Regions from separate parts of the Homo sapiens genome. Here all the other regions are linked to region 1. Evidence: fine-mapped expression QTL. A gene starts in region 1. Each other region holds a variant in brackets. All regions are shown on one strand. Distances are between the middles of the regions. Region 1 holds the start of SMG7 (SMG7 nonsense mediated mRNA decay factor). Region 2 overlaps APOBEC4 (apolipoprotein B mRNA editing enzyme catalytic polypeptide like 4). Region 3 overlaps NCF2 (neutrophil cytosolic factor 2). Region 4 overlaps SMG7 (SMG7 nonsense mediated mRNA decay factor).

What was found. PIP is the estimated chance that this variant, and not a neighbour inherited with it, causes the effect.
Region 2: its variant is fine-mapped to the expression of SMG7 in whole blood (TOPMed, PIP above 0.99).
Region 3: its variant is fine-mapped to the expression of SMG7 in whole blood (TOPMed, PIP 0.97).
Region 4: its variant is fine-mapped to the expression of SMG7 in whole blood (TOPMed, PIP above 0.99). The same link has a PIP of 0.9 or more in B cells, CD4 T cells, CD8 T cells, NK cells, lung and monocytes.

Annotation. Positions count from the first base shown.
Region 1 is chr1:183,468,663-183,476,538 of GRCh38, reverse strand. SMG7 (SMG7 nonsense mediated mRNA decay factor) reads right to left here and starts at 4,040. Exons shown (of 23, transcript NM_001375584.1): 1 at 3,890-4,040. The coding sequence starts at 3,918. It overlaps SMG7-AS1 (SMG7 antisense RNA 1), which reads left to right and starts at 4,557. Exons shown (of 5, transcript NR_040063.1): 1 at 4,557-5,819; 2 at 5,999-6,074; 3 at 6,740-6,865. RefSeq lists silencers at 4,053-4,202, 6,175-6,364 and an enhancer at 4,358-4,989.
Region 2 is chr1:183,642,992-183,650,867 of GRCh38, reverse strand. It overlaps APOBEC4 (apolipoprotein B mRNA editing enzyme catalytic polypeptide like 4), which reads left to right. Exons shown (of 2, transcript NM_203454.3): 2 at 2,057-4,593. The coding sequence starts at 2,087. The coding sequence ends at 3,190. It also overlaps a transcript of RGL1 not described here. Among named protein-coding and RNA genes, the nearest start is that of APOBEC4, 6.4 kb to the left of the region's middle. RefSeq lists a silencer at 4,820-5,114. The variant C/T (reference allele first, on the strand shown) is at 4,120.
Region 3 is chr1:183,559,417-183,567,292 of GRCh38, reverse strand. It overlaps NCF2 (neutrophil cytosolic factor 2), which reads left to right. Exons shown (of 15, transcript NM_000433.4): 8 at 1-89; 9 at 305-373; 10 at 1,514-1,589; 11 at 3,263-3,288; 12 at 3,708-3,859; 13 at 3,987-4,098; 14 at 7,020-7,197. Among named protein-coding and RNA genes, the nearest start is that of NCF2, 27 kb to the left of the region's middle. The variant C/T (reference allele first, on the strand shown) is at 3,991.
Region 4 is chr1:183,550,636-183,558,511 of GRCh38, reverse strand. It overlaps SMG7 (SMG7 nonsense mediated mRNA decay factor), which reads right to left. Exons shown (of 23, transcript NM_001375584.1): 21 at 7,591-7,761; 22 at 7,322-7,467; 23 at 4,321-6,694. The coding sequence ends at 6,581. NCF2 (neutrophil cytosolic factor 2) reads left to right here. Exons shown (of 15, transcript NM_000433.4): 15 at 2,282-2,950. The coding sequence ends at 2,394. Among named protein-coding and RNA genes, the nearest start is that of NCF2, 36 kb to the left of the region's middle. The variant T/CATT (reference allele first, on the strand shown) is at 4,144.

The DNA.
Region 1 (7,876 bases):
TTTATTGGTCTTACTGGGACTTCTTGCCTCCTATCTTCATTTCTGACCCTTCTGAAACAGCCATCTTGCTCCTTGGTTTCCCACCACCCCACCATTTCAATGCCAGACATCCCAGCTCATTTACTCTAACAAATTAAAATTCAGCCAAGACAAAACTAATTTTCATCTACATGAGGCAGGATCTGTAGCTATAGAGATTAAAAATTGCCCAGTCATGATCTTCCACCACTGACAAAGGTAGGCAAGAAAATTCTTCAAGTCAAGGTCACGAAAACAATTGCTACACCCCCCAACCACATCCATTCAGCAATACTCGGCATCCTCCCTGAAGTGTCTATAAAAACCAACAGTTCTATTTTCAAAGAACGTGAACATAATGCTTCCCTAAAGACATTCTCTAGTGTCCCCACTGCAGACTTTAAATGGAATGATTATCTAAAAGAGGAGGAGGGAAATTCAGACTGGCACAAGCCTTTATGATTCCCACAACCACCACCTAGGTCTCAGACTTCTAACACTTGTTTTAATTTACTTAGGACAAATGCCTAAGATTGAGACAAGACTGGCTCCAGGAATCTTTAAGGGACCCCAGGACCTATGCCTCCCCCATTTTGCCTGCTCAATTTTAGCTGAAAAATATCATTGTATTCATTTTTTTTCTCCCTTCTTCAAAGAACTAAGTTCATCTCAAACTATCATTGATTCCACATCTAAGGAAGTCTTCCCTACCATGTCAAGCTATAAAATATAAGGCACATTAACAAGAAGCCTCTCAAAGTCCACTGATCTTCCCCATTAAAAGTACCACCACTCTGCCAATTTGTTTTTCATAACTTTCTAGATCCACTGCCAGTACCTTATTCAGGACCAAAGTCCCAAAGGGAATCTTTTGTAAGGAAAAGAACCTTACAAAAAGGACCAATTTTGAAGTCTTCCCCTTTTCTAAGCAGTAGTCACTCCCCAATTAATGTCAGGCTCTAACAACCTTACTTTTCTCTGTTATCCACCACTACATTACACAGAGTCATTTTCCTAACACATAGCTGTGAACATATTAATTCTAGCAAATCATCTCAGATTCTCCATTGTCTACCCATTTTAACTATAAATTATGGAACATGATATTCAGGATCCTCTTAAATATGGTCACCTTATCAAATAGGATTTCCCCGACCACTTTGTCCAGATAAAACAGTACATCCCTGTCTTACTTTATTCCTCTTCCTAGTGCTTGTGACCACCTGATATATATTTAACTGCTATGTTTACTGACTGTGCCCTTCTACTATAATATATCCTCCCATGTTCACCCTTTTATTCACCAGTGTACCCTCAACACTAGAATATATTATGTTCTCAACTTATATTTGTGGAAAGAACAGATGAATACTGACATGCAGTGTACTACAGCTGACTTGAAGTTAGAAGACCTACATTTCAGTTAGTTTCCACATACCAGCTATATGAGCCTCAACAATTTTACCTTCTTTGGGCTTACATTCCTCATGTGTAAAAGGAAAGGGTCAAACTTGATAATCTCTACAACTCTTAAGTTTTCTCAGCTATATCACACTACCTTGTTGTCTAACTGGACTGAATACCTCCCTTCCCCCCAGCTTCCCTACCTACATAACTCTGCTCAGTTTCCTTCCATTTGGAATTCCCCGCTTCTCAATCCACATCTGTCAAAATGAACATTAAGGATGAACAATATCCTAAGTGCCATTTTCTTGAAGTCTAACAAAGTGTAAGCTCTGTAAAAGGAGGGTGGAGTTGTTCTTTTTCTATTCTCAGATGTTGGTACAATGCCTCCCATACAGGTGATCAACAAAACAACTAATGAATCATGAGTACATGAATGAGCAAATAAACAAAGTCTTTCCTGATTTCCTCCCATTGCTCAGGTGATCTCCTGCCTTTGGACTCAAAACACTTCGTATCTTTTATTTTTATTTATGTATTTACTTATTTATTGAGACGAAGTTTCACTCTTGTTGCCCAGGCTGGAGTGCAATGACGCCATCTCGGCTCACTGCAACCTCTGCCTCCCGGGTTCAAGCGATTCTCCTGCCTCAGCCTCCCGAGTAGCCGGCATTACAGGCGCCCACCACCATGCCCAGCTAATTTTTTGTATTTTTAGTAGAGACGTGGTTTCACCATGCTGGCCAGGCTGGTCTTGAACTCCTGACCTCAGGTGATCCTCCCGCCTAGGCCTCCCAAAGTGCTGGGATTACAGGCGTGAGCCCCCGTGCCCGGCAACGTTTGGTATCTTTCATGGTACTTACACTCTGTGCTGTTTAATTTACTTGCCTAACAGATACTCAACTGCAAATTCCTTAAGACTAATCAGCACCCTGATGGTTTCCATCTCTCTATAGCACCTACAACAGATCTTTGTCATAGCTATATTTATTTGAAATATTAAACAACAAAGGGATATCTAAGATGAAAAAAAGGACCTCAAATTACAGACATCATTCCAACTGTCCTGTGGTCACTGGGCATATATGTTGTGTTAAAATCAAGCATTCAAGCATTGTTCAAATATCTCATCATTCTCTTCTCTCCCTATTATGCTTAATAAAACTTTACTACTTTAAAAATTATAATGGCCACCCTATGTATCAGGTAACTACACACCTCTTGCAATATACATATAGGGATCCACACACGTCAATACTTTCATGTCACTAAACAGCTAAAGTGACTTTTCCACTCATTTCAGACTTCCACCTCATCCAACTCCCTCCTCCGCAAGGTATGAAACAATTTTTTAAAAAACATCTTTCCATAAGGCCTCCCTTTCTTAGTTCTGCTCCTGAAAGACAAAAAGGACCAATTTTAAAGTCTTCCCCTTTTCTAAGCAGTAGTCACTCCCCAGTTAATTTCAGGATCTAACAACCTTACTTTTCTCTATCAAGATTTTTGACCCACTTTACCTCTGCCTCCAAGCTCTTACTCAGCTTCCATGGAACCTTTCAGCTGACACAAAAGCTGGTGTCCTTCCATTCAATATGTTCTCGCCATCAGGTACTAAGTTCAACCTATCTACATCTTCATCCTGAAATGTGCATCAATCGCCGCGCCCCCCACCCCAGACACACATCTCGCACACACACACACTATTCCCATGTGTCACTCTACCTCTGACATACAAGTTCCTTACACCACTCTTAATGAATACACACGACTCTCAGAATGGTATCTTCCGACTACACTGATTCTAACCCAGTTTCTTCTGAAAAACCCAACCTTGTCCACAGTGCCTCCCTCTTTCCTCACTTCCCCATCTATTCCCCTTCACGCCTCCCCACACCGCCAACTAACTACAGATGACATTATTCCTCAATACTCCCAACCCGAGAATGAAGAACAAGCTCCAGTTTCCTGCGGTCTCCCTCTCCCCCTGTCTGCCCTCCGCGGTTCCCCCGCCCCAACACCCCAGGTGTGCAGACTTCCTCCCCGTCCTCTACTCATGCATCGCTCCAACCAATCCCACGCCACACCACGAGTCCCCTGCCACGGGGATCAGACTCCTCCACACCCACCTCCACTCGGGGTCGCCGCCGCCTCCCCGGACGTTTCTCTCCACCCCTCGCTAGCAAACCCGAGACCAAGGGCGCGCGCGCACATTCTCACGCTTCCCCAACCTCCCTCCTCGCACCGGGACGAGCCGGCTTCGCCAGAGCTCAGCCCGGGCGGTAGGGGCTAGGCACCCATACCCGTTCCGCCCCCTCCCGCAGATCCCCTTGCAGTCTCCGCCGACCTGCCCGGCGAGGAGAGGACGCAGCAACTCCCCCGCCACCCCGGACTTACCTCGGTGTCTGTTGCTCCATGCCCCAACCTGCGGCCCGCTCCCCCTACGTACCAGCCCGGCCTCGGCACTCACCGGAGGTACTGCGCGCTCTGCAGGCTCATCCTCCGCCGCCGCCGCCGCGTCTTCCCGCGAAGCCTCCGTGGGTCTCTCAGGCTCCTCGGAGCGGCCCCGCGGCACCGCGGGTGCTGGCGGCCGCCGCCATCTTCCTCTCCTCCGGCTCCTCCTCGCTCGGCAGGGGGGTGGGGGTGAATGAGGCGAGGGGGAGGGAGTGGGGAAAGCTGCTCTCGCTGCTGCTCTGGCCCGTGGGGCGCAGGGACACTCCGACCCGGGGGGGAGGGGGAGGGAGGAGGGGCGGGGGAAAGAGGAGAAGCAGAGGAAGTCGGCGACCGGGCGAGGGAGGGGGTCCCTCTCGCGAGATTTCAGCAGCGCCTGTCCCTCAGTGATTTCCGCCTCTCTGTAGCGCTCCCTTTTGGGATCAACGAGCTGTGTGGCGCCTGTGCGGCTTCTGAGAGACCGGCTGGTGGCGCTTGGCGGCTTCCTGCCAATCCACCCTTCTCCTCCCGCGCAAGGGGGCAATCCCAATCCCACCACCGGGAACACCCAGGCCAAAAGAACGGGAGTTACACTCAAAGTCTTCCCCCTTCTTATCACTCCTGCCGATTTCCCTCTTCCTTTTTGCACGCCTCCACTCTTCCCCACCGGAAACGCCGCCCCTTCCTCCTACAGTTCCTCCCAGCAGTCCCTCAACGCCTGTCTTCCCTCGCGCGTAGAGAGTGACTCGAAGGACCCCCTCTCCTCTTCGCTGCAGCCCCTCCCCATGCACGCTGGGAGACTCTTGGAGGGGATAAGGTGGGGCCCGGAGAGGAAGAGAAGACAATCGGATTGGATAGGCAGCTGCCATGGCAACTGGAGGCTGTGGTTATATTGTCATAGTAACCGATGTGTGCGGACAGGGTCACCCTCCCCTTGGCCAATGGATTCCCAGGAAACCACCCAGGGTTCCCCGTTGGCTTCCCTTCCATCTAAAGGCCTCCCCCAAGTTAGGAATCGATATAGTTCTCCCCGGTGGTGAAGTCCACTTCCTCCTCCCTTCCCACTTCCCACAGCAACTGGGGGGACACCCCGAGGCATTCACCATGGGCTTTTCCACCCGCCTGCGAGCGGGAACCACCTCCGTAGTTTCCTCTCAGAGCCGGGCGTGGAGAGGGCTGGGCCTGCGAAGAGGATGCATGGCCTGGAGGCTGGCGGGCGGCGGGCTGGAGTCGGGAGGGCGAGGCGACAGCGCCAAGCGGCGAGGAAGGGCAAGGGGTTTCCCCACAACTGCCTTGGGCTCTGGGAGGCGGGATCCCGCCTGGACGGGGTCCCTGAGGGAGGAGAGCGGCACACGACAGCCGCGATGCCTTCCCTGCCGACGGGGATAGCCGACTTCTGGCGAGTCGACCCCTCCCCCAAATCCACCCCACCCGCGTACTCCCTCCTGACCTAGCTGTCGCGAGCCTGCCGCGAGGAGGCCAGGGTGAGGGTGGGAACACATCCTAGAAGGCTAACACGTGGTTTTCTATCATTTAAGCCGGGGACAAGCCGGAAGGCTGACTAGCGCCATCACTCTGATAGGCACCCCGCAGTGGGGATCCTGCTTGATTATTAAAGGCAGACCTCCAAGTTCCTCCCTGCTCTGCAACCTTTCTCTTCTCACGGGTCTGCAGTGTTTTAAAAGTCGTCATTCTGTGTCGTTGAGTTAGAGAGGAAAACATCGGATAAAAGAGGATCAAGAAGAACGAACCCTAGATACATCTGTCTGGTGAAAGGAGTCTAGGAAAAGAAGTTTCATTCTTAGAACAAATCTTTTTGGATATTTATTATGTGTGTTTTGTGTCAGGTTTCGGGCCAAAAAGCTGAAATAAAGAACGAAGTCAATAATAATATGAAGTGTATGAGAAATAGCTGGAAAATTCATCATCCATGACTTGAAGAAATTGACGTTTTACAAGTTATATTTTCGGTTCGTATTGTGGAGTCACTTAAGGAGCTATCCCAAAGTACTTTAGGATATGTAACTATATAAAACCTTCCAAGAATGCAGCCCTCATAGGATAGTTAAAATAAGGATTTTAATGGGCTATTTTGATTTGGTTTGGTCTGGTTTGGCTACCTGATTCCTGCTGTCTTTTTCTACGCCAGGTGAAGAGGCACTTTCAAGATCCTTCTCTGAGACCTGCACCAATAAGACTATACCAATGTTCAGTTGAAACATCAGGTATAAGTTTAGCGGAAACGAAAGTACAACCTGCTTTGAAATAAATTCCAAGGACAGATTGTCATTAACGAAATAGAAAGTGGACTATGCCCCTCATGCTGCCAGCGCCTGGTATGGTGCGGCGTGACACGCAGCGCTTGCGGCAGTACAATGCCCCCAATCACCCGCCCCGCCCCGACGCGCCGCCCACTCACGGCAAAGAGAGCCACCTAGTGAGGGATTATTCTCATTTCCGCGGTGGGGTTCTGCTTTTCTTTCTACCATGAGCGCCCAAGGATAGACACTCCTACTACCTATTACCTCAAATAGCCTACATTTCTTTCCGAAAATTTATTGGTTAGATATTTTTCTTTTTTTTTTTTAATTTAAAGACCAGTGTGATCGTGTATTGGTTAGATTTTTTAATTGGTTAGATTTCAACCAGAATAAAAATTGTAATAATTACCCCCTTACTAATCATGGTAATAGCCATTTATGTCTGTGGCACATATCTCCAATAAAGAGTGTATGAACAGTTATCATACATTCCTGATAAGCAATCTAGGAAAATATTACTACTATCTTCTCATTTTGGAAATAGAGAAACGGATCAGAAAGATGAATCCTTTTGTTAGTGTTTGCTGATTTATTCCATAAACATTTACTGAGTACTTATTATATTTCAGACACTGTTCTGGTTATGATGGACACCACAGTGAAAGAGACCTGGTCCCTGCCTTGAGGAAACCCAACTGCTGGTAGAGAGCTCAGAGTAATGATTAGGATGCAATATGAGGGATGCAGTAATTGGGGTAAGAACAAAGTAGGAACACATGAGGTCAGAAATAATAAAGTCTGTGTTTTATAGCAGCTTTCCTAAGAATCTTATAAGAGTCTTCAATAGCTTTACAATATCTCTAGCTAAATAGAAGAATAGTAGTATATTTTAGAGATTAGAAGACTTTGATACTAATATTAAAATTACCTTCAAAAATCAATAGGACTCAGAAAAATTATTACCTTCTATTTATATACTGTTTAATACACATTTTCCATTTTCATCTATTTCCACTTGTCCTAGTCAACAAACTTGTAGAATTACAAACATCTTTCTTTTTGCAATAGATATTGTTCACCTTTTCCCCCCTACAGATATAAGATCACATCTAAACCAAAAGAAATTAAAGAGAAGCTTCCTTACTTACATTAATCCTACCAGATTTTGTTTTTGGGTTTGTCTTTTTGGCTAAGTGATTTCATGGAAAGATCACAAGCTAACGGACCTGAGTATGCATTCTAACTCTGCCATCTTGGTGTCTGAACTTCAGTTTGCTCCTTGACCAAAATGGAAGCATTACCTGTTATAGGCTTCCTGTGACCTTTAATGATGACATACATGATTGAGTGCCCATTATACAACACTGAACTTGATAAACATTAAATTTTTTTCTGCCTTTTTGCTTTTTTTTTTTTTTTTTTTGAGACAGAGACTTACTCTGTCACCCAGGCTGGAGTGCAGTGGCACAATTTCAGCTCACTGCAACCTCTGCCTCCTGGGTTCAGGCAATTCTTGTGCTTCAGCCTCCCAAGTAGCTGGGACTACAGGTGTGTGCCACCACGCCCAGCTAATTTTTGTATTTTCAGTAGAGACAAGGTTCACCATGTTGGCCAGGCTGGTCTCAAACTCCTGACCTCAAGTGATCCACCTGCCTTGGCATCTCAAAGTTCTGGGATTACAGGTGTGAGCCACCTTGCCCAGTCCCTTTTGCTCTTTTATATCAAGCTAAAAAGAGTAAAATAGAACTACTACAGCATAACATTAT
Region 2 (7,876 bases), 170 kb before region 1:
TTATAGCAACAAAAAAATACCAATGCTCCCTTCTCAAATTGGGATAAACAACATTGTAAGAGAATGTGATAAGATTGGTACACCTTCCTAGGAAGCGATTTGACAATGTTTGACCTAATACTATGATTTCTAGTAATCTATTCTAAAAAAAAAAAAAAATCTGATTCTTTATAATAAATATTATATAATATATGCAATAGATAATTTCTCACAGAAATATTTATCAAAGTGTTATAATAATTAAAAGAGGCAAGAAACTGAATGTTACAGTTACATAATAAAAAACTAATTAGCCATGAATATTGTGTTTTTTGTTTTTCGTTTTGAGACAGAGTCTCGCTCTGTCACCCAGGCTGGAGTGCAGTGGTGGGATGTTGGCTCACTGCAAGCTCTGCCTCCTGGGTTCACGCTATTCTCCTGCCTCAGCCTCCCGAGTAACTGGGACTACAGGCGCATGCCACCACACCTGGCTAATTTTTTACATTTTTAGTAGAGACGGGGTTTCACCATGTTAGCCAGGATTGTCTCCATCTCCTGACCTCATGATCCGCCCACCCTGGCCTCCCAAAGTGCTGGGATTATAGGCGTGAGCCACCACGCCTGGCCGAATATTATTTTTAATAACATGGGAAAATGCTCATGGCACAATATTAAGTGAAAAAGCAGGGTATAAAACATGACTTTGTTTATATTATATGTAACATACACATATAGCAAAAAGACTGGAGGGAATAGACATGTTAATAGTGACGGAAGGCTGGACATGGTGGTTCACACCTGTAATCCCAGCACTTTGGGAGGCCAAGGTAGGAGGATCACTTGAGCCCAGGAGTTCGAGATCAGTGTGGGCAACATAGGGAGACTGTATCCCTCCTAAAAAATAAAAAAATTATCTGGGCATGGTGGTACATACCTGTGGTCTCAGCTATTTGGGAGGCTGAGGCAGGAGGATCACTTGAGCCCGGAAGGTTGGGGCCACAGTGAGCCATGATCATCTCACTGCACTGCAATCTGAGCAACAGAGCAAGACTGTCTCAAAAACAAACAAAATAGGTAGCTCCTAGAGCATTATAGGAACAACGATAACTGAAGGAATATTTTTTAAAGGAAAAAATCATTACTTAAAGATCTCAGCTTTTTGAGTTTAACATCCCAGAAACTACTAATTTGAAATATTCTAAAGAACCATATTTGCTTTCTGTAACAGTAATTTTTCAAAAGTCTTCTAACAAGACCCACTCACGGGAAAGAAAACTCTTACATGTCAATGAATGAGTGTCCACAATCCAAAGAATACTCAAGTGGCACTTTCCTAAGAAGTCTCTATCATTAAGCAAAAGAGATCCCATGATCCTAGTCTCAAAAAAAACCCAAAAACCTCCAAATTATTTCCAGTGATTTTAAGAAAGTTGATGTTAAATGCAAGCACACTGAATAGTTCTGCACAATACATTAGATGTTAACATATTCTGAGAAGAAAGATCATGAACAAAATGCAAAACACTTTTTTGTACTTTTATAATTAGGAATAATCTAGATAACCCTAGGATTTGTACTTTTACTACTAAGAGTTAATATTTACTGAGTCCTTACTATGTGACAAGCACATTAGTGAAGCATTTTATATTCATTCTGTTATTCAATGCTCAAGACAATCTTATCAGGTAAGTACTATTAATATCTTCATTTTACAGACAAGGAATCTGTGGCTCCCAAATGTTAAATAACTTGTCAAAGGCCACCAAGCTGATAATTGGCCAAGCCCAAATTTAAAACCAGACAGTCTGTTTCTAGAACTTGCATTGTTAACTCATTTGCTTTACTGACTTGGAATCTATGAAACAGGTAAAGTTGAAGAACGCCTTTCTCTTCTGTTTCCTCCCCATGCTCTAGGAGTCTCAATAAAGAATAATGAATCCTGAGCTTTTAAATCTATGCATATATCACTATCTTTATTGTGCTACTTCCTTTAAAGAAAGTATGGTTTAATAAATTAATGCACTGTCTTCAGTTTTTCCTGCGCTGGTTTTATATGTAATTTCTCTTCCTTGTTTAGGTTTGCAGCTAGAAGACAGTAAATCTAGCAATGGAGCCCATATATGAGGAGTACCTAGCAAATCATGGAACAATAGTAAAACCATATTACTGGCTAAGCTTCTCTCTCGATTGCTCTAATTGTCCTTACCATATTCGAACAGGTGAAGAAGCAAGAGTTTCCCTCACAGAATTTTGTCAGATTTTTGGATTCCCTTATGGGACAACATTTCCTCAAACAAAACACCTCACATTTTATGAACTAAAAACTTCTTCTGGTAGCCTGGTGCAAAAGGGCCATGCTAGCAGTTGCACTGGGAATTATATCCATCCAGAATCAATGCTCTTTGAAATGAATGGTTATCTTGACTCAGCCATATACAATAATGACAGCATCAGGCATATCATTCTGTATTCCAACAACTCCCCTTGTAATGAAGCTAACCACTGCTGCATCAGCAAAATGTATAATTTCCTGATTACGTATCCAGGCATCACTCTTAGTATTTATTTTTCTCAGCTCTATCATACTGAGATGGACTTTCCTGCCTCAGCATGGAACCGCGAAGCTCTCCGGAGCCTGGCCAGCTTATGGCCGCGGGTTGTTTTGAGTCCAATAAGTGGTGGGATCTGGCATTCTGTTCTCCACAGCTTTATAAGTGGTGTCTCAGGATCACATGTTTTTCAGCCCATTTTAACTGGGAGAGCACTGGCTGACAGGCACAACGCATATGAAATCAATGCCATAACAGGCGTAAAACCTTACTTCACTGATGTTCTTCTCCAGACAAAAAGGAATCCAAACACAAAAGCTCAGGAGGCTTTAGAGAGCTACCCCTTAAACAATGCCTTTCCTGGACAGTTTTTTCAAATGCCGAGTGGACAACTCCAACCCAACCTACCTCCAGACCTCAGGGCTCCTGTTGTTTTTGTGCTAGTGCCTCTCAGGGACTTACCACCAATGCATATGGGCCAAAACCCAAATAAACCCAGGAATATCGTAAGGCACTTAAATATGCCTCAAATGTCATTCCAGGAAACCAAGGACCTTGGAAGGCTTCCCACTGGAAGGTCAGTGGAGATAGTGGAAATCACAGAACAGTTTGCAAGTAGCAAGGAGGCAGATGAAAAGAAGAAGAAGAAAGGGAAGAAATAAAATCTACATTCCTACAGCATGAAACCAATTACCAAGGGACTTATTAGATAGGCAATAAAAATCTGGAAACTTTCTCTCTCAGGGCTGAGCCAAGATGGAGATAAACTGATGCACTAAAAGCAAACCTTGAATTATTTACCATATCAACTATTATAAAGTTACACTATTTTAAACATAATCCAAAATGTTTCCATAAGCAACTTGATCTCTCTCCTTTATTTTGAAAGTGGCAGTATCAAAATGGAACCATTAGCAGCTTGCTAATATTTTGATGCAGAAAAGGAATCTCATTATTCTATTTTACTCACATCATCTTTCCACTACAAAAGCCCATGGACAAAATAGCTACCTAAATTTGTTTCGGTAAAAAATTTACTGTAAAATTGAAAAACAGCCTGAAGCTACTGACATTAAGTGCTGTTTGCAGGAGCAAACCAGTGATTTTCTATTAATTGTTAATCATGGACAGAAGATTTTAGGCAGCTCATTTTTTTCTAAAGTGATTCAAAATAGTTTTGTGTGGGAAAAAGCTCTTCTGCTGATTACATATAGCTATAAAGATTAAAACCTAGCCACCTGCTCAGTTTGATCTTCCCCAGCTCAGACCTCTCCCTTCTGAGCAGATGATAGAGGTAAGATGATACATGAGAACCTCCAATGGCTCCTGTCATCACATACTGTATAAAATCCAAGTTCCTCTTACTGGCTTTCAAGGATCCTCCTTTAACTTCCTGTTGCCTTGTCTCATCAGCAAGATCATAAGTACCTACAGGTCAAGCACTGTCTCTCCCTTCTCTTTAGCTTTTCCCTTAGGATCTAGCACATTACCCAGCAAAATGTGAGTAGCAAGGCTGAAATGACATCTCAATAACTTCACCAATGATTGTAACTCAGCATCCCTTCTCCATCCCAGCTGAAAGCCTGCTTCA[C/T]CATCCTGCAAGAGATGTTTTTTCTTTTTGTTAGCATCCATTCCCCTTTCTAATGCAGCTCCCAATGCATAATGTGTGTTTTACTTCCCTCTTTCTGACTCCATCCTCGTCACCAGTGAATATTTGTACCTTCTCTTAAAATCTTCAAAACACACTTCTAGGAAGTGCTCCTTGATTAATCCTCTAAGCACTTAAATGAAAGCACTTTGCTTATGCTTATTTCACATTTGCTGCCACTTGCCTCTTTGAAATATGTAAAGATACATTACAAGAAAAATGTACATTTTCTCGTAACTTGCTATTAATTTTTTTCTTTATATATATATATAAAGTAATCCTAAGCTAATAAAAGAGTTTGCCATGACATTAAAACATTTAATACTCCATAAGGGAGGAGGAGAAAGAAAAACATATTTTAGGAATAGCAATTAGTATTGTGGTTAAAATAAACATGAATAAAAATTTTAAAACAAAGTTTTATTGTTAGCATACAAATTTTAATGGAATTACTGGAATATAGTTTTATTCTGGGTATATAGTGAGTATTATTTAAAGAAGTACTGTTGAGGTTTATTTTTATTTCATGAAATCCTATGTCCACAATTTGGGATACTGAGTTAAAAAGATCCCAACATGACAAATCCAGCATCTCTGATCATTATTAAAATAGATCCAATTTGTTGCCAGAAAATGGCAGACTACAACATGAACCAGGCTACAGAGAATCCAATTAGAAACATGGTCTGAAATAGATGATGAACTGAACCTGGATATCAGTGGTATATAACAAAAGGAGAAGTTGTCAGAACTATAGGAAAGAAAGTGCCTTTGGCAGTTAAACTTTTGTACTGGTTCGATAAGACTAGGGCTACAAAGAAGATTACTCACAGGTCGTAAGTCCAGGCCAACCTTAGACAAAAGACTGTTAGAAGAGCATAAAGATATACTGTCCAAGGCAAGTAATCTGTTTCCTCATCTGTAAAACAAGAAATGTGGGCTAGTTCATCTTTAAGGTTCCTTTCAGCTCCGTCTGCTATAAGAAGGCATATAGCAAAGCAATAGTTCCACAAAGTGAGATCCTGCAGTGCAGTGATTAGCTTTCCTTGCTCACTACGCAGTGATTCTTGGTCATATCAGGCTGGCCGGGGATTGAGAGAGAGAAATTGGGTTGCTCCACCCCTCTTCAGCCAACTGGCAATGGTGATATGGAAGAATATCTCTGCCACCACACATATAGAACTAATGGAAATAAAGAAAATAGAAGTAAATTAAGGTAGCTAGTAATATGATGATCTGGAAAAGGCACTGGGATATATCCCAAGAAAACAATGAGACTGAAGAGACGGACACATTATCTTGGTGAATCTACCAAGGTCCAGGGTTTGGGGGTCTTAGCTTTATATGCTCAACTACCTACTTAGTAAGTACAGGGAGAATGGATTTACTCATCAGAAGCAGGTTTGGATTAACAAACCTCTTGAGATTGACATGTAAAGACAAAAAACTAATGTACTGATTTCTAGTAAGACTTATAACTGGATATGCAAGCATATATTCAAGTCATCCAGGTTACATAGCCTCTCCATGTAGATAAGCTACATAGCAAGCCAAATTATCATAAGGTTGCCTTATGGATTAGAGGAGTCCATTATGTGACTCAAATGTTTAGTGCTATCAGATTCTGCTTTAGTAGTGGTGACTGACATCTGCTTAGAATGAAGTGGTGGATGGGGTATGCACAAAGGCATCTCATTCCTGGACAATGTTTGGGAGGGTCTAGGCAACAAGAGACAACACAAACCTCTATGACCAGCTCCTGTCATAGCATCGATTTTCTATGTGACTAGAAATCCGTTTTCTATGTTTCATCAAGCTACAATCCAATTTATATAATACTAAATAGATTAGAATTCATCAAGCTATAATCTAATCCTGCTGATCGGACAGCAAATCCTATTTCTTTAAACTGCCGTTACATCTTTTTTATTCATAGTATAAGCAATCCAAAAAGTTTAACTCACAGAATGGAATCTTACTCTTCGTATTGGTTTTTAAGGAAAGCCACATAAATAAATTTAAAAATTAAAAAAATAAAATAAAATAAATTTTAAAAGGAAAGCCACATCATAACCTATGCTAATTTAAAATAATATTATTCGGCCAGGCGTGGTGGCTACTGCCTGTAATCTCAGTACTTTGGTAGGCTGAGGCAGGAGGACTGCTTCAGCCCAGGAAGTAGAGGCTGCAGCGAGCCATGATCACACCACTACACTCCAGCCTGGGCAACATAGCAAGACCCTGTTTCTAAAAAATAATATTATCATTATTACTAACATTGAGTGAGAGCTATATGTCAAGTATTTTTCTAAGCACTTACATGTATTAATTCATTTAATCCTCCCAATAATCCTATGAGGTAGATATTATTATAATAACTACTTTACATATAAGGAAATTGTGGCACAGATAATTTAAGTAACTGCCCAAGTAGTAAAAAAAGGCTGAGCTGAGCGTTAAACCCAAGAAGTCAAGCTCCAGAATCCATGTTCTTAATCATTATGCCTTAATGCTTCTCTAAATAATAACAATGCAGATTCACTACAAAGTCTGAAAGAATCCATATTTATTTAGGACCTGTCCTGTAGCTTTTCTGTCATTCTGCTCAAACCACAGTACCAATGGGCATCCTCTAAACTATGGAAGCCAGGTAGGCAGGGTGGGCTAGGGTGGAAAACTTTAGTAGGTTCTAGATCCCAGAACTTTGGCCCTCCCCCACTCCCCTGTCGCCCAGGACCTCATGCCAAACATAAATCCCAAGATTATCTTATCTTAGGTGTCCCTGACTTTCAGGGATGTACTAAATCTGGGACCCAAGGCAATAGAACATTGTTTTATTGCATTGTTTAGTTAAAATTAAGTGCAAATCGTTCCTCAAAAAATTAAAGAGAATTAATATATCATCAGGCAATTCCACTTCTGGGTATAAAATCAAGATCTTGGCCAAGCACGGTGGTTCATGCCTGTAATCCTAGCACTTTGGGAGGCTGAGGTGGGAGTATCGTTTTAGCCCAGGAGTTAAAGACCAGCCTGGGCAACATAACAAGACCCTGAATCTATTTAAAAAAGTAAAGTAATTTTTTTTATAAAACAGGACCTCGGGCCGGGCGCGGTGGCTCACGCCTGTAATCCCAGCACTTTGGGAGGCCGAGGTAGGCGGATCACGAGGTCAGGAGATCAAGACCATCCTGGCTAACATGGTGAAACCCCTTCTCTACTAAAAATACAAAAAGTTAGCCAGGCATGGTGGCATGCACCTGTAGTCCCAGCTACTTGGGAGGCTGAGGCAGGAGAATCACTTGAACCCAGGAAGCAGAGGTTGCAGTGAGCCGAGATTGCACCACTGCACTCCAGTCTGGCAACAGAGTGAGACCCCGTCTCAAAATAAATAAATAAATAAATAAATAAATAAATAAATAAATAAATAAAAAAACAGGACCTCAAAGAGATAGTTCTACACCCATGTTTATAGCAGTATTATTCACAATAGCCAAAAGGTAGAACCAAACCAAATGTCCATTGACAGATGAATGGATACCCACAATGTGGTATATACATACAATGGAATATTATTCGGCTTTAAAAAGGAAGGAAATCCATTCACCTGCCACAGCATGGATGAACCCTGAGGACATTATGCCAAGTTAAATAAACCAGTCAAAAATAGGCAAACACCACATGATTCCACTTACATGTGGTA
Region 3 (7,876 bases), 91 kb before region 1:
AAGAAGAGCTCCAGGTCATGCCAGGGAACATTGTCTTTGTCTTGAAGAAGGGCAATGATAACTGGGCCACGGTCATGTTCAACGGGCAGGTATGCAGAGGATCAGGGGCTGGTGCGATGGGCATGGGATCCTGGCAGCAAATGCAGTCTCTGTGGAGCAGTATCTGCTGCCTTCTTTGCAGACCAGCCAAGTTCTTTTGTCTGTTCGTCATCCCTTCCCCAGGACTCTGGGCTGTTCTGTGGTGTGGGTACTGATGAGCACATCTTTATTTTTTCCTTTCTGATTCTGTGGTGCTGCACTGCAGAAGGGGCTTGTTCCCTGCAACTACCTTGAACCAGTTGAGCTGCGGATCCACCCTCAGCAGCAGCCCCAGGTAATGTGATGCCAAGGCCTGACCCATTTCCTCTCACCCTTTAGGGATCTCTCCCTGGAGGGGAGAAAAGCAGTGTAAAAGAGGTGTTGTCAGGACCCCTGGAGAAAGATTCACTAGTCTTGAGCCCGCCTTGAGATGGCACCAGCTACCCAGAGCTGAACCTGGGAATGAGGGGAAAAAAGCCCAGATGTGCTAAGTTGGAGGCATCTGTAGGTCCCATTGGGCCCACCCACCTCTGTGACTCTTCCTGGTCAGAAGTCACTTGGGAAGCAAAGCCTACAGTATATGAGTGGGTTAGGTCTTCCCAAGTGTGTCTGCTTCACGTGGAAGAGTAGTCAATGTGTTGGCTGGTACAATGCCATTAGAAAGAAAATGAGGCCAGCTGCAGTTGCTCATGGCTGTAATCCTAGCACTTTGGAAGGCTGAGGTGAGAGGATCACTTGAACTCAGGAGTTCGAGACCAGCCTGGGCAAAATAGAGAGATGCCACCTCTATACAAATAAAAATAATAAAATGAGATCTGCCTTAGAGCTTTGAATCAGAGTGGGCCTTGCCAGCCACTGCTTCTAAACTGCTGCTACTCCCTCCCTCACACTTCAAAAGTCTGTCCTTCTGCCAGGCCTAGAGAGCTGTCTTTGTCAGATCTGAGCATCCCTGTAAGTGACTCAATGGCAGTGGAGACTGTCTGTCTCTAGACTGTGCAACCAGTTGTATATGAGCTCAGCCCTCCCTGGTCAGTCACCATATCCAAATGCTTTGAAAAGCTTCAAATGCCTTGCAAATGAGAAGTGGAATTTTTCCTTTCTCAATGCCCTCTGCAGTGGAGACAAGAGCTCAGTCCTGCCCCACGGCCAGTGGATTTCCAATATGGCTGAAAGAGTTGCTAAAGCGGCAAGGGCGTTTTAGCGGGTTAGGATTCTTCTTTCTACTGTGATTTTCATTTTCATCAGGCCAACTCCACCTCCTCTTTTGGCCAACATTTCCTTCGTCTTCCCCAAATGTCACTACCATTCCAACTTTTAGGACGTTATCTGCATGTGGCTCCTTTACATGGGGTCTCTGTAGGGGTGTTTCCCCACATCCACCCCTGCCTGGGAACTTTGAATGAAGGTTCTGACCGTCGCTCCCTGTTGCCTTCAGGAGGAAAGCTCTCCGCAGTCCGACATCCCAGCTCCTCCTAGTTCCAAAGCCCCTGGAAGACCCCAGCTGTCACCAGGTGAGTGGTCCTGGAGCCACAGCCTAGGTCTGGGTGCAGCAGCATGCCAGGCTGCTTCCTGAGTTCCTCTCCCTGCCTTCCAGGAAATTCTGGTTTCTTCTTCTCCCAACATGTCACTCAGCTAATGACCACGCAGCCCCAGAATCCCCCTTTCCTGCACCACCCACCCCAAACATGAAATCAGTGCCCTCTCTCCCTGCCTTCTGCAGAACACTCACGGGGCTTGGGTGAATGCAGCTGGTTCCTGAGTGACTCACGTAGTCACCAAACCCCTTGATCATTAGGTAGGGAAACGATGTCTCAGGAAGAAAAGTTGAAGTAACTATACCTGCTTATCTCTGAGGGGCATGGAGTGGCTGTTTTCAAATGTCTGAGGCACTGTATCTGGAAAAGAAATTGCTCTGTGGAGCCCTGAGGATGAACAAAGAACCAATGGGCAGATGTGAAATGGAAATGTTCTCTCTGAAAGGCTGTTTCCTAGTGTGGAGAGGGCTGTCTTGGGAAGTGCACTTGAAGCAGATTCTGGATAAGCGCTTGGTAGAGACGCAGAGTGAGTGGTTGGCCAGATTCTAGATCAATGATTGCCACACGCGCCTGATCATCAGAATCACTCGGGATGTCCCTTCCCCCATTTTTATTTTGAAAAATGTCCAACCTACAGAAAAGCTGACAGTAGAATACAATAAACATCAGAATATCTTTCACTTAAACTCACCAATTGTTAACATTTTGCACCATGAACTCGCCCTGCTCCATTCTATTTTTCTCCCCCGAGCCAGTTGAAAAGTTACAGACTCGTGACACTTCACCCTACACAGCTGCAAAAACGCAGTCTCCTGCATAATCACAATAGAATCATGGTATCTAGGACACTAAACATTCATATGATAGTATTATATAATGTATATTCCATATTCAAATTTCTCCCGTTGCTCCTGCTCAATGTCCTTGACAGGTTTTTTGTTGTTATCTTTTGTCTAGAGGCTCATCAAGGATCACATATAAACCTAGGATGATTTTGTGAATACAGAGTCCTAGGCTACTGGCTCTGATATTTTAGGACTGGAATGGGGCTCGGGAATTTGTATTTTAGAAAAAAACTTCCCATGTGATTCTAATGATCAGCTAGGTTTGAGATCAGTGGCCTTCTCTGATCATGTACCCCCTATAGTAAATATCTTTATGCATGCTACTCTTACATAAATTAGATTAATATTAGATTGCTTGATTAATAGATTAGATTAAATTAATAAACTTTAGGAAACATACACAAAAATAAAGAATAAGGTGAGGATCAGTGGTTCTAATACTTCTTCCTGTGGCCTCTGGCTCACCTTGCACTCCGATTTTCATTGCTTTGGATCCCGTGGGCTTAATTGACCTTTGGGATCCCTGCTAACCTTGTGGGTTGGTGAGGATATGCTGGTCCTTTGGTAATTACCTATAGGCTCCCTAGAAGCAGAGACTGAGTTTGTTCATGTGTTCATGACCTTCATGCTTCCCCAGGGCGAGATTTTCCCCACAGTTTACTAAGGTTAATAATTGCCCCACAAATTAAAGGGTAAGAGGTTGGGGGCCCTATTTGAAGAGGTTTCATCTGTGTGTGGCAGGGGCTGGCCAAGGATGTTCATTCACCATCTTCTTTTGTTTTACTCCCTACTTTTTCCATTCAGGCCAGAAACAAAAAGAAGAGCCTAAGGTAACATTTTTCCCTCATACTGTTTCAAGTGGTAGAAGATGGGATAGCTTGGGCTATCAACCACAGACATGTCTGTCTGGATTATAGGAAGAGCCCCAAAGGGAGGGTCGAACCAGTTGCTACCTTACAGAGTCCATGAGCTAGGGACCTTCTTAATAGCCTCCTCCACTATCATGCACACACTTCCTACTACCCAAGCTAGTGGGCCAGATCTTACTCAGTAGGAATTCCTGTCCAAGCAAGGGTTGGGCTAAAGGACCTCTGAAGGCCTTTTAGGCTACTGTGAAACCAGTTACTTACTGGCCTCTCCCCTGCTGTATTGGGTACCCCCTGTGCCAAATCACGAAACTGCGGTGATCCAGGATGTTGAGAGAAAGCCTCAGACACTCAGGAGTTCCCTTTGTTTCCTCCCCACTCAGGAAGTGAAGCTCAGTGTTCCCATGCCCTACACACTCAAGGTGCACTACAAGTACACGGTAGTCATGAAGACTCAGCCCGGGCTCCCCTACAGCCAGGTCCGGGACATGGTGTCTAAGAAACTGGAGCTCCGGCTGGAACACACTAAGCTGAGGTGAGCTCCATGCAGGCAGCTGTGAGGGGTACAGTGGGAACCTTGTGCTGGCCTGGAGGAGGGAAGAGGAGGATGGTTTTTGTGATGATGTTCTTTGACTGGATTCTTACTCATTATCCCCACCCAGCTAT[C/T]GGCCTCGGGACAGCAATGAGCTGGTGCCCCTTTCAGAAGACAGCATGAAGGATGCCTGGGGCCAGGTGAAAAACTACTGCCTGACTCTGTGGTGTGAGAACACAGTGGTGAGTGCAATGAGGGGCATCTAAAGTTACATTTCCACTGAGCCACTTCCTCAACAATTTGAAATTTATCAAGCACCTTCTGTGTACTAGGCACTATATGTGGTGTTGGGGATATGGTGTGTAATAAGTCACAGCTCTGCCTCCCTTTTACCTGCATCCTCACCCCATTTGCAGCAGGGAGAGAGTTTCCCACAAGAGAACAGCAGGCCCAGCAGGGCAGGAGCTCACAGAAAGCCTCCTGCCCCTCCATCAGCTCCCTGCCTGACTGTGTCAAACATCCCATCCATTACTGTCAAGCAAGGTTGGAATGAAGTCATATCATAGCTTAAGGCTCAGCTCATAGCCATTCTTCACCTTTTTTTTTTTTTTTTGAGATGGAGTCTCACTCTGTCGCCCAAGCTGGGTGTGATCTTGGCTCACTGAAACCTCTGCCGCCCAGGTTCAAGAAATTCTCCTGCCTCAGCCTCCTGAGTAGCTGGGATTACAGGCACCTGCCACTGCACCCAGCTAATTTTTGTATTTTTAGTAGAGACGGGGTTTCACCATCTTGGCCAGGCTGGTTTTGAACTCCTGACCTTGTGATCCACCTGCCTCGGCCTCCCAAAGTGCTGGGATTACAGACATGAGCTGGGAGAAGAAGAGTGAAAGAGAATGAGCCTAGAAAAGGGCAGTGTATAAAGCTGTTTAAGGTATCTTCCCCGTTCAGAAAATTGCCTTCAGGAAATACAGCCACTGGGGATGAGACTCCCTGGTGTCTCTGGCTGAGACAAAAGGCCCCAGGATCCTGGGGGTAAGAGTGAGTGTGAGTGTAAGGGGTCTCTTGGAAGTCTGAAAAGTCACTCTAGGTTTTCCAGCTGTCTGTCTTTGGACTAACCCCTTCAGCATCTTTTTTAAAAGATTCTTCCTAGAAGGAGTTCTGCTCTAAATGTGAACTACTTCACTTAAACTTTTTTTTAATTAAAATTTTTTCCTTTGACAGCAGCTTCAATCTATTTGGTGGCTGCACATAGCCAACCCTCTTACAACTCCCCACAATCTTTTGCAATTTAATCCAGGCTCAGGAGTCACTGTTGAATGTTCTTTATCACTATCCATTACTTTTGGAGGCAACAAAGCAGGCTTTCACTTACTAGGAGAAAGAAAACCAGGCGCAGTGGCTCATGCCTGTAATTCCAACACTTTGGGAGGCTGAGGCAACATGGTGAAACCCCATCTCTACTGAAAATACAAAAATTAGCTGGGTGTGGTGGTGTGCACCTGTAGTCCCAGCTACTTGGGAGGCTGAGGCAGAATTGCTTGAACCCAGGAGGCGGAGGTTACAGTGAGCTGATATCATACCACTGCACTCCAGTCTGGGTGACAGAGAGATTCTGCCTCAAAAAAAAAAAAAAAAAAAAAAAAAAAAAAAAAAAAAAGAGGCCTGGTATGGTTTATGCCTGAAATCCTAGCACTTTGGGAGGCCGAGATGGGCCAGATCACCTGAGGTCAGGAGTTTAAGACCAGCCTGGCCAACATGGTGAAACCCCATCTGTACTAAAAATACAAAAAAAAAAGAAAAGAAAAGAAAGAAAAATAAAATGAACTAACATTTATTAAGCATCTACTCTATGCAGGAACACTTACCATTAACCAAGTCTAAATATTTATACATATTTAGAAGAGTACTGCCACAGAGTAAGTGTTCAATAAATGTCAACTACTATTATTGTATGTCATCTCATTGAATTCTTCTAGCCTCAATTTCAGGTGAGGTAACTGAGGTTCTGAGAAGTTACACTGCTTGCTTAGGGACACAGAGCTGGTAAGCAGTGGAGGTGGGATACAAACCTTTCTCTGTGGACTCTCTAGGGCCATTTCCACCTCATTGTATTGCCTCTCAATAAAAATATACCAACGTTCAACAAACAACATTAAGAAGCTAGAACTTATAATGCTCGGTACATACAAGCCTAGCAGCATTTCTAATGTTGATTTGTTAAATTCTATGATTCACATCTGTAGAAACCGCATCCTTCTCCTTCATTTGTGAAGCAAAAGTGACAATAATGTGGAAGAAGTCTAAGATCATAAGTCTAAGATGTATAAGAAATGTTGTTACAGATAAAACAAGTATGGCATTGTGCAGTGGTTTTTGAACTTTAGCAAGTATCAGAATTCCCTAGAGGACTTAAAATACAGATTGCAGGATTCACCTTCAGGGAGTTTCTGATTTAGTAGTTTTGGGATGGAGTTGAAAGTCTGCATTTCTAACAAGGTCCCTAGTGTTGCTGTTAGAGTTGATGCTAAGAAAGCCAGTTTTGACTTAGGGCTCTGTCCCCATCTGTAAAGAAATAATAATGCCCATTCTACCTGTCTCAAGATTATTGTAAGGTTTCAGTAAGATATTTTAAGACTGTATATGATTTTGCAGACCTTTTGGTTTCATTTATCCCAGGGGTCCCCAACCTCCAGGCCACGGGCCAGCACAGGGCTGCACAGCAGGTGAGCTGCAGGTATACTGGCCTGAGCTCTGCCTCCTGTCAGATCAGCAGCAGCATTAGATTCTCATAGGAGTGTGAACCCTATTGTGAACTGTGCATGCAAGGGATCTAGGTCGCATGCTCTTTATGAGAATCTAATGCCTGACGATCTGAGGTGGAACAATTTTATCCTGAAACCACCCCCCAACCCACCACCCACCACCATTCATCTAAAAACTGTCTTCCATGAAACTGGTCCCTCGTGCCAAAAAGGTTGGGGACTGATTTACCCAACCATCCAGTATTCATAAAGAGCATATAAGCTCTACACAAGGCACTGATCACAAACTTTATGAGTTTATATCCCAGGTTCTACTTTGACATTTCGCTGTTTCCTTTAGTGATGTTCAGTGTTCACTTGGCAGGAAATTGGGAAAATTAACAGGCCCTTTATTATTTCAGGGTGACCAAGGCTTTCCAGATGAACCCAAGGAAAGTGAAAAAGCTGATGCTAATAACCAGACAACAGAACCTCAGCTTAAGAAAGGCAGCCAAGTGGAGGCACTCTTCAGTTATGAGGCTACCCAACCAGAGGACCTGGAGTTTCAGGAAGGGGATATAATCCTGGTGTTATCAAAGGGTAAGTGCTACTCCAAGACTATAGAAACAAATTTACATGTTAGCAGAAACAAGGTCAAGGGCAGAGAGAAGAAAATATCAATAATCTACAAACAAAACTTTAGCCAGTGTTTTCAACCCCCTTCCTAGCATCTAGCTGGAGGGAGCAAAGTTGAGCACTCAGACTTTCCCTGTCTATTGCTCTAGTAGCCAGGAAAGCAACAAGAAGCTGAGTTGTTTTGTTTTTGTTTTTGTTTTTGAGACAGAGTCCCCCTCTGTTGCCCAGGCTGGAGTGCAGTGGCACAATCTCGGCTCACTGCAACCTCCCCCTCCTGGGTTCAAGCAATTCTCCTGCCTCAGCCTCCTGAGTAGCTAGGATTACAGGCGCCCACCACCATGCCTAGCTAATTTTTGTGTATTTAGTAGAGATGGGGTTTTGCCATGTTGACCAGGCTGGTCTCAAACTCCTGGCCTCAAGTGATCCAACTGCCTCGGCCTCCTAAAGTACTGAGATTACAGGCATGAGCCACCGCACCTGGCCGGCGATAAACATCTTGATTATTAAAGAGGAGTATGCTTTGGAAACCATGGATTCTCATTCCCAGAGGTAACAAATTGGGCTGGAATCACTTTGCCTTTGCATCAAGCTGTATGACCTTCTGCAAACCATAGTTCTTTGAATTAATGTACTTTTCAAAGAG
Region 4 (7,876 bases), 82 kb before region 1:
CTGACTGCTTGAGGTCAGGAGTTCAAGACCAGCCTGGCCAACATGGTGAAACTCTGTCTCTGCTACAAATACAAAAATTAGCCGGGTATAGTGGTAGGTGCTTGTAATCCCAGCTATTCAGGAGGCTGAGGCAGGACAATCTCTTGAACCCAGGAGGAGGAGGTTGCAGTGAGCTGAGATTGTGCCACTGCACTCCAGCCTGGGTTACAGAGTGAGACTCAGTCTCAAAAAAAAAACAAAAACAAAAACAAAAAAATTAAAATTAAAAAAAAAGTTAATGGGGGTAGAGAGAGTATACAACAAGTGTGTAGCAATTAATTAAAAATATGAGTAGTATAGGCTGGGCGTGGTGGCTCATGCTGGTAACCCCAGCACTTTGGGAGGCCAAGGTGAGTGGATCACTTGGGGTCAGGATTTGAGACCAGCCTGGCCAACATGGTGAAACCCCATCTCTACTAAAAATAAAAAAATTAGCCAGGCGTGGTGGCGTGCACTTGTAGTTCCAGCTCCTTGGGAGGCTGAGGCAGGAGAATCACTTGAACTAGGGACATGGAGCTTGCAGTGAGTCAAGATTGCACCTTTGCACCCCAGTCTGGGCAACAGAGTGAGATTCTGTCTCAAAAAAAAAAATATGAGTAGTAGTAATATAGAAGCAGAGTGTTCCAACAAGAGAGAATGGTAACTCAGTGGGAAGAACTGGGTTGAACACCTCCAAGTGCCACTTTAAAGGTGCCTAAATCAACCAACCAGCTCAATTGTCTGGAGTTTGGGAGAGGGAGCAGGAATACAATGAAAGAACACACTAAAACAACCTTTTGGGTAGATATGGAGAGAAGCCAGTATGCGTCTTACTATGACCTATCTGTACAAGTCTAAGTTGAGGAAATACCCATATTGTAGCACTTCAACAGAAAACAGAATTTAGCGGTCAGGGTAGGACAGAGGGGAGTTCAATTGCATTCAAGTTATGAGATGGTCTCATCTACAAAGTGTTTCTCAAACTTTAATGTGCATGTGAATCACCTGCGAATCTTCCTAAATGGATTCTGACTCTGGTTTGGATCTGGGATTTTTCATTTCTAATATGCTTCCAGTCCACGACCTACCCTGTAAGAAGAATCAAGACAGTGATTTGCAGTTAGAATTACCTAAGGGAACTTTTGAAAAAACTGCTGCCCAGTCACACCACACATTAAAGCAAAATTTCTGGGGGCAGGATCCAGGCACCAGTGCCTTAATGTCTGATCTAGATGTACAAAGACAAACTTCTGAACTGGCTGTGTGGTCAGGTAGGTGGGCTTTGGAGATCATACCTAAGTTGTCTGATTTTTACTGGCAGAATGGCTCTGAACAAACTATTCATCTCTCTGGGTCTCCTTTTCCTTAGTAAAATATGGATACCTACAAGTTATTATGAAGTCTGAATATATTTTTTAAGTACAATGCCTGCACTCTATTAAAGGCTCTGAGTAGGAGCTATTAAAATATTTATATTTAACAAACATGTACTAACCCATCACTAGCTCCAGCTCACCTGTTTAATGGAGTTCAGTGAAAAGAAGAAAGTTTACTAAAGAACTTTCATTTTTAATATATTTAACCAATGGCATGTCCCTTTTCTGTAGTCAAAACAAAGATTCCCAACAAAGCGCAGGTAAAATTCTCTCCTCTCTTAAAAAATTGGGCCAGGCACGGTGGCTCACCCCTATCACCACAGCACTTTGGGAGGCTGAGTTGGGTGGATCACTTGAGCCCAGGAGTTTGAGACCAGCCTGAGCAACATGGCGAGATCCTGTCTCTAATAAATACAAAAATTAACCAAGCGTGGTGGCACAGCCTGTAGTTGCAGTTACTTGGGAGTCTGAGGTGGGAGGATTACTTGAGCCCAGGAGGCAGAGGTTGCAGTAAGCCCAGATTGTGCCACTGCACTCCAGCCTGGGTGACAGTGAGACCCTGTCAAGGTTGGGGGTGGGGAAAGGACAGAAATTCTATTTAAGGATTCGTTGTTCAATTTCTTTGACCCTTCTTCTCTATCTGGTAACTTTTTGAAAAACATAATTTATCCTTCTTCATTTTGCTCATTATCATGTTTAAGACAGATCAATAAGATGGTTAAACCCTGTGTTCACTCTCAAACCACTTTGCAATACTGTCTTTTCCCTGTTGATCACAATTAGGGGTGGGGAAGGGTGACAGATAACAAATTCTGTGTGGAATAGCCAGACAGGGTAATCTTCCTACAGTGGTTTTAGAAATCCATGTGTACTTTTCCTTTTATCAGTGAATGAAGAATGGCTGGAAGGGGAGTGCAAAGGGAAGGTGGGCATTTTCCCCAAAGTTTTTGTTGAAGACTGCGCAACTACAGATTTGGAAAGCACTCGGAGAGAAGTCTAGGATGTTTCACAAACTACAAAGCTGAAGAAAATGAAGCCCTATTACTTGTTTGTAAGATTTAGCACCCTTCTGCTGTATACTGTACTGAGACATTACAGTTTGGAAGTGTTAACTATTTATTCCCTGTTAAAATTTAACCTACTAGACAATGATGTGAGTACCCAGGATGATTTCCTGGGGCACAGTGGGTGAGGAGATGGGGACAGGTGAATGGAGGAGTTAGGGGAGAGGAAAAGTGGATGGAAGTGTCTGGAAAGGGCACGAGAGAGTCTTCCAGGTACTGATCCTGTTTCTTGCTCTGAGTGCTAGCTAGCCAGCTGTGTTCACACTGTAAACATTCATCAAGCTGTACATTTGGTGCACTTTTCTGTGTCATACCACAATAAAAAAAAACCTAGCATCTTACAAAAACAAGACACCCAAGTCCAGGCCCAAGGAGTAAGTACAAATATTCCTGTTTCTGAACCATTACTGTAATTGGCTCTTAAGGCTTGAAGTAACCTTATAGGTTACTCATAAGGCATATACAAATAAACTTGTTTGTTTTCTTTTTTCATTATGTCTTGTTGCTTAAACAGAACCTAGACTGAGTTAGGTTCTCATGGACTACAACACTCAATTCCACAGAGAATTAATAGAATTACATACCTTTGTACATTCTCAGAGAGGAACATGTGTTAAGAACTCAATACTGAATATATATCAATCGCCAACATTTAAGTGATGAAAAGCAGCGGTGTTCATGAAGCTAGTTCGTAAGTAGTATCTTGTTAGCTGACACTTCGTAATACAGTTATGCACTGCTTCACAATGGAGACATGATCTGAGAAACGTGTTGTGCAAACTCATCTAGAGTGCACTTACACAAGACTAGATGGTATAGCCTACTACACAGCTAGGTTACCAGGTATAGCCTACTACTCCTAGGCTACAAACCTGTACAGCATGTTACTATGTTGAATTCTGCAGGCAACTATACCACAATGGTAAGTAAGTATCATCAGTGTAAACAAACATAGAGAAGGTCAGCAAAAATGTATTATAATCTTATGGGAGCATCATTGTATATGCAGTCCATTGTTGACCAAAACATTGTTATATGGTAAATGACTGCATATACTATGCTATACTAATATACATAACAGAATGCTATGGATTTGGCTAACCCAATTGTCCAATTTTTCAGGATTAACTTGGGTGAAGGATTCTGTAACTAACTAAACTATTAGACCTTAAGGCCTGGCCTTAGTTCCTCTCCCTACCCACTTCTTGTTGTAGCGTATGTGGAGCTTTGCTAACAATTTTTCAAGTGTGCAGGCGCCTGTGAAAAGCAGAATAAGGAAGTGAACTGCAGACTGAATCAACATGCAGGTGAAAGGATAGCCGGTCAGGGTGAGCACACAGGCATTAAGGTTAGCTATACCACTGGCTTCCAGCACACAGTTGGAAGACCCAGCAAGCTACCAATCACTGGAAACTTTGGACACAACTCAAAGAAAAGAAACCCCAAAGCTAAGAAGAAGAATTAATTAATGTTGCTGCTAATCAGATTCAGTGAATTTTTACAGGCCAAAAGGATAAACTCTCTGAACTGCCTCAGTAACAGCTACAATAGGAATAAAAATAAAAATGATGGGCTCTTAATTCCTTAACATAAGGCATTCTTTTATTAAATAAAAGAATTTTGATAATCGATTTCTTACTACTCATGCCTTTCCATTACAATTAATTATAATTTCCGTAATTCAT[T/CATT]GGTTTGGAATGCTACTAAAAGCAAAATTAACCCTGAAAAATATTCAAGTTCTGACCATTTATGCCTTTCCCTGGATGACCTGTGAGTAGTTGAAATTCTTGCCTTTTAAGTTGGATTTTCTTCAATACTTCTTTTATATCTTTTAGGATAGAAAAGAAAGAATCGATACACAGATCTGGTTGGAGAGAACATGGTTTAATTAAAGGCAAAGCTGATTTTCAGCAGCTGCAGGTCTTGCACAGACAAAAACAAAAAACAAAACCCAGAAAACAAAACAAAAAACCACAAAAGAAAGTTTACTACACAAAACCAGTTTCTGATAAAGATTCTCCTCCCCCTCATTACTCCACAGTGAGGATGATAAGGCGAGGAATCCCGCCCCAAGAGTCAGAAAACATTCCAAACACCAAATTCTCATGCAGAATGGGGCTTTAGATAGGAGCTGGGTATTACTGGGAGTGAGATGGTAAACCTGGTTAGCTTGTCTAGGGCGCAAGAATCAGTGACAGTTCAAACACTGGAATGTTGCAGCTGCCTGAATGCAGAGCTCAAACACACAAACTGGGTAAAGGTAGTAGGAAAAAGGCTTGGGAAGAGGAGAGAAAGGTGGACACAGGGAAGGGGCTGAAGAGAAGCACAAAAGGTTTCATATTGCCATTGGGTAGGGGGCTTCACCTTTTCAGACCTTTCAAAAAAACAAAACCCAAACACCATGTCAAACTAAAAGAGCAATAATGTAAGCATACGGGGCGGGGGGGGCTCCAACCACTCTCTCTGAAGAGCAATGAGCGTTATCTCACCCCTTTTCATTGCTGGGGTTGCCCAGACTGCAGTGACAACTGGGGCTCCTGGATGTGCTTTGCTCTACAGCTGTCTTCCAGCTCTTAAGTTCCACACTAACTCCATACACTCGCACACACAACCCCTCCCCTCTGGGACAGCAGATGGGCACGTGTGTGTACACAAACATACAGACACACAAAGGAGAGACCTCCCAGAAAATAAACCCTACCACTAGCACAGCAATTGAACAATTAGATTGTTTCCATAATTTCCCCTTAAAATATTACTTTTCCAGGAAATGACTAACAGAAATGCTGTCCTTCTGTTTCTACACAAGAACATTTTCAGTCCTCTTTCCTCCTAATAAATATCATACAAAGAGTTTATTTTCCTTTCTTTCGTCTCTTCCAAAATGGACGACGTCGTGTTTTCTTCTGTGCCTGATGGGCACATGTCCGTGCTGCCTTGAATTTCACTCTGAAAGTGGAGGCTGGGAGACTGCAGCTGGGCAGGGGCCTGGGCCCTCTGTGGGCTACGCAGATACTGCTGCTTCCTTCCTCTTCAGACTGTCTTTTGGGCCCCAACTGCTGGACCCCATGCTGTTGCTTCTTGGGGAGATGTGATGTTGCACACATTAGGAATAAAAACAATTACTAGCATACAGCATTGGGTAAAAGAAGGGATGGAGATGGGGCAGGAGGGTGGGAAGTAGAATGGGGGCACAAAAACCAACCAAAGAAAAAATAACCACACTGAAAGCTTCTACCTATTAGAACGTGTCAGGCTGTGAATGGACTAGCCTGCCTTCTGTGAGACTGCTTGCTGTGCGACTGTAAAATGTACAGGAATCAAAAACGTAATTTGAAATCCTACAGCAGTCTACCTGCTAGTCCAGCCCAGCACCACCACCCACACTGTATCCTCGATTGGGGCTCGAGCACCTACAGAGTGAAGGGCATTCCCTGCTGGAGTCTCCTGGCCAGAGGAAGGCCTACCAGAGCCTTCTGACAGGCCTTGAACTCTCCCTTATGGAACATTTCCACTGGCTGAAGAGGTCGGTTCCCCATCCTGTCACCACCAACCTCTCACAGGAGCAGTGAACGGGGCTTTCCTTGCTACACACTGACTAGAAGCACACCTGTGTATGGAAGAATTCAGTGTGATATTTTACTACTGAGAGTAATAATAATAAAAGATGTTTAAGAATAATTTCAACTACATTCTCAGTCAGCAAAGCAATCATTAATGGATTCCTATTTTATTCCCCAAAGAGGAAAAAAGGACTGAGAAGTTCCCATTGGCTTCTCCCATCTGCCTTCCCTTCTCAGCTTTCACTTCCCATGTGGCTGGGGACATGCACGATGGAGAAGGTGAGAGGCGGTGATACCAAGTAACTGAGTGAGATAAACAGCAGTTCCTCTCTCTCTCCCTCCGGAGGGCCCCGGGGGGACGGAGAGTTCCTGATGGATTTTTCTTTTTGTTGCACTGCGAACATTTCGTGCACACTCAGCGGGCTGGTGGAATACTTACACCCTCTTGACAGCGAGAAACAGAAAAGAGGGCTGCCACCTGCAGGGGACTGTGTGGGCCAGTCCTGCAAACCCAACATGCCATGGTTTATGGAGCCTTCATTCCCAGGTTGCCACTTTGGCCTCAGTGTGGAGGGTTCATGGTGCCTTGTCCCCGTTGCTGTTTCTGCTTCTGCTGCATTAACAGCTGCTCCAGAGCAGAAGGTCCAGGATGCATCATGGAACTGGACCAGATAGACTGAAAAACAGTCCAGATCTTGTCAGCAGAGGTCAAATGCCAAGTTGTCTGAAAGGGATTTTTCAATCCCAGCCAAATATAAAGGCATATATATGGCCCCAAAACCCAACCCCACTCCCCATAAAAATCCAGCTATTAGAAAAAGTCATTATAAGACTCTTAAAGCTAGTTAGTTTCCATTAAGACTATTTTAAACCAGAAGAAGTGAAATCACATTTTATGTCAAGTCTTTTTACTGAAACTCAGCTGTATGTGGTACCACACAGGGCATTTACTATAAAGTTTTCAGGCAAATAAAACATTTCTAAAATTAGATACTCTTATTTTGTCAGAAAAGGCTTAAATCAAACATTCCAAAATGAATCAGAATTTTCTTAACCTTAGAATGAAACTAAAACCTTTGTTTTTGTCCTCCTGAAGATACTGCTTTACCACTAGTGAATTCAGAAATTAAAAATTATCACTCAAGAATCTTGTAAGGCAGACCATGTTTCTAGGACTTTGTTATATATGTGCTATGTATCAGTCAACTCCGAGGGCCTGAGAAGTCTAGCTATTTATGTGAATGAAAGCAGAGACACCTTTGCTGTAATAATCTTGTGGTTCTTGTTCCTGAAATCTACTCACCTTTAGGCTTTCCATGAGGACAGCAGAGGAATCCTCCATGGAAGGGCCATGGCCTGTCCAGGTGCCACTCGGAGTGCTGGCCTGATGCCAACTGCTCTCAGAGGATGACGTTGCTGAGAGATAATCAATGCCAAACCCACCCATGGCTAAGGGATGAAAAGAGATAAGAAAAATTCAAGAAGATGTTCTATCACTGCCAATTGCCAGACCCCAGGGAAGGATAGAGTAAATTCTTTCAATTTTGCCTGGCAATGAAATGTAGATCTCACCTGGCTTATCAGTTTTCCACCGATCTGCAGTCCTTCTATCCCTGTTATCTGGAGTCCCAATGGGTCCAAAATTGGAGAATGGAACAGAATTATGGTTGTGTGTTGGAGGAGAGCTGGGTAGGCTGCTTGGGTTAGAGGAATGAGGAGACTGGCTGGCTGGTGTTGAATGATCTATTAAATAATAGCAACACAGGATATAGTAAATCATTGTTTCACAAACATACAAAGAACTACAGGTTCCTGTAGATCTGATCACTAAAATTCTACTAACAATAACCACAGGGCT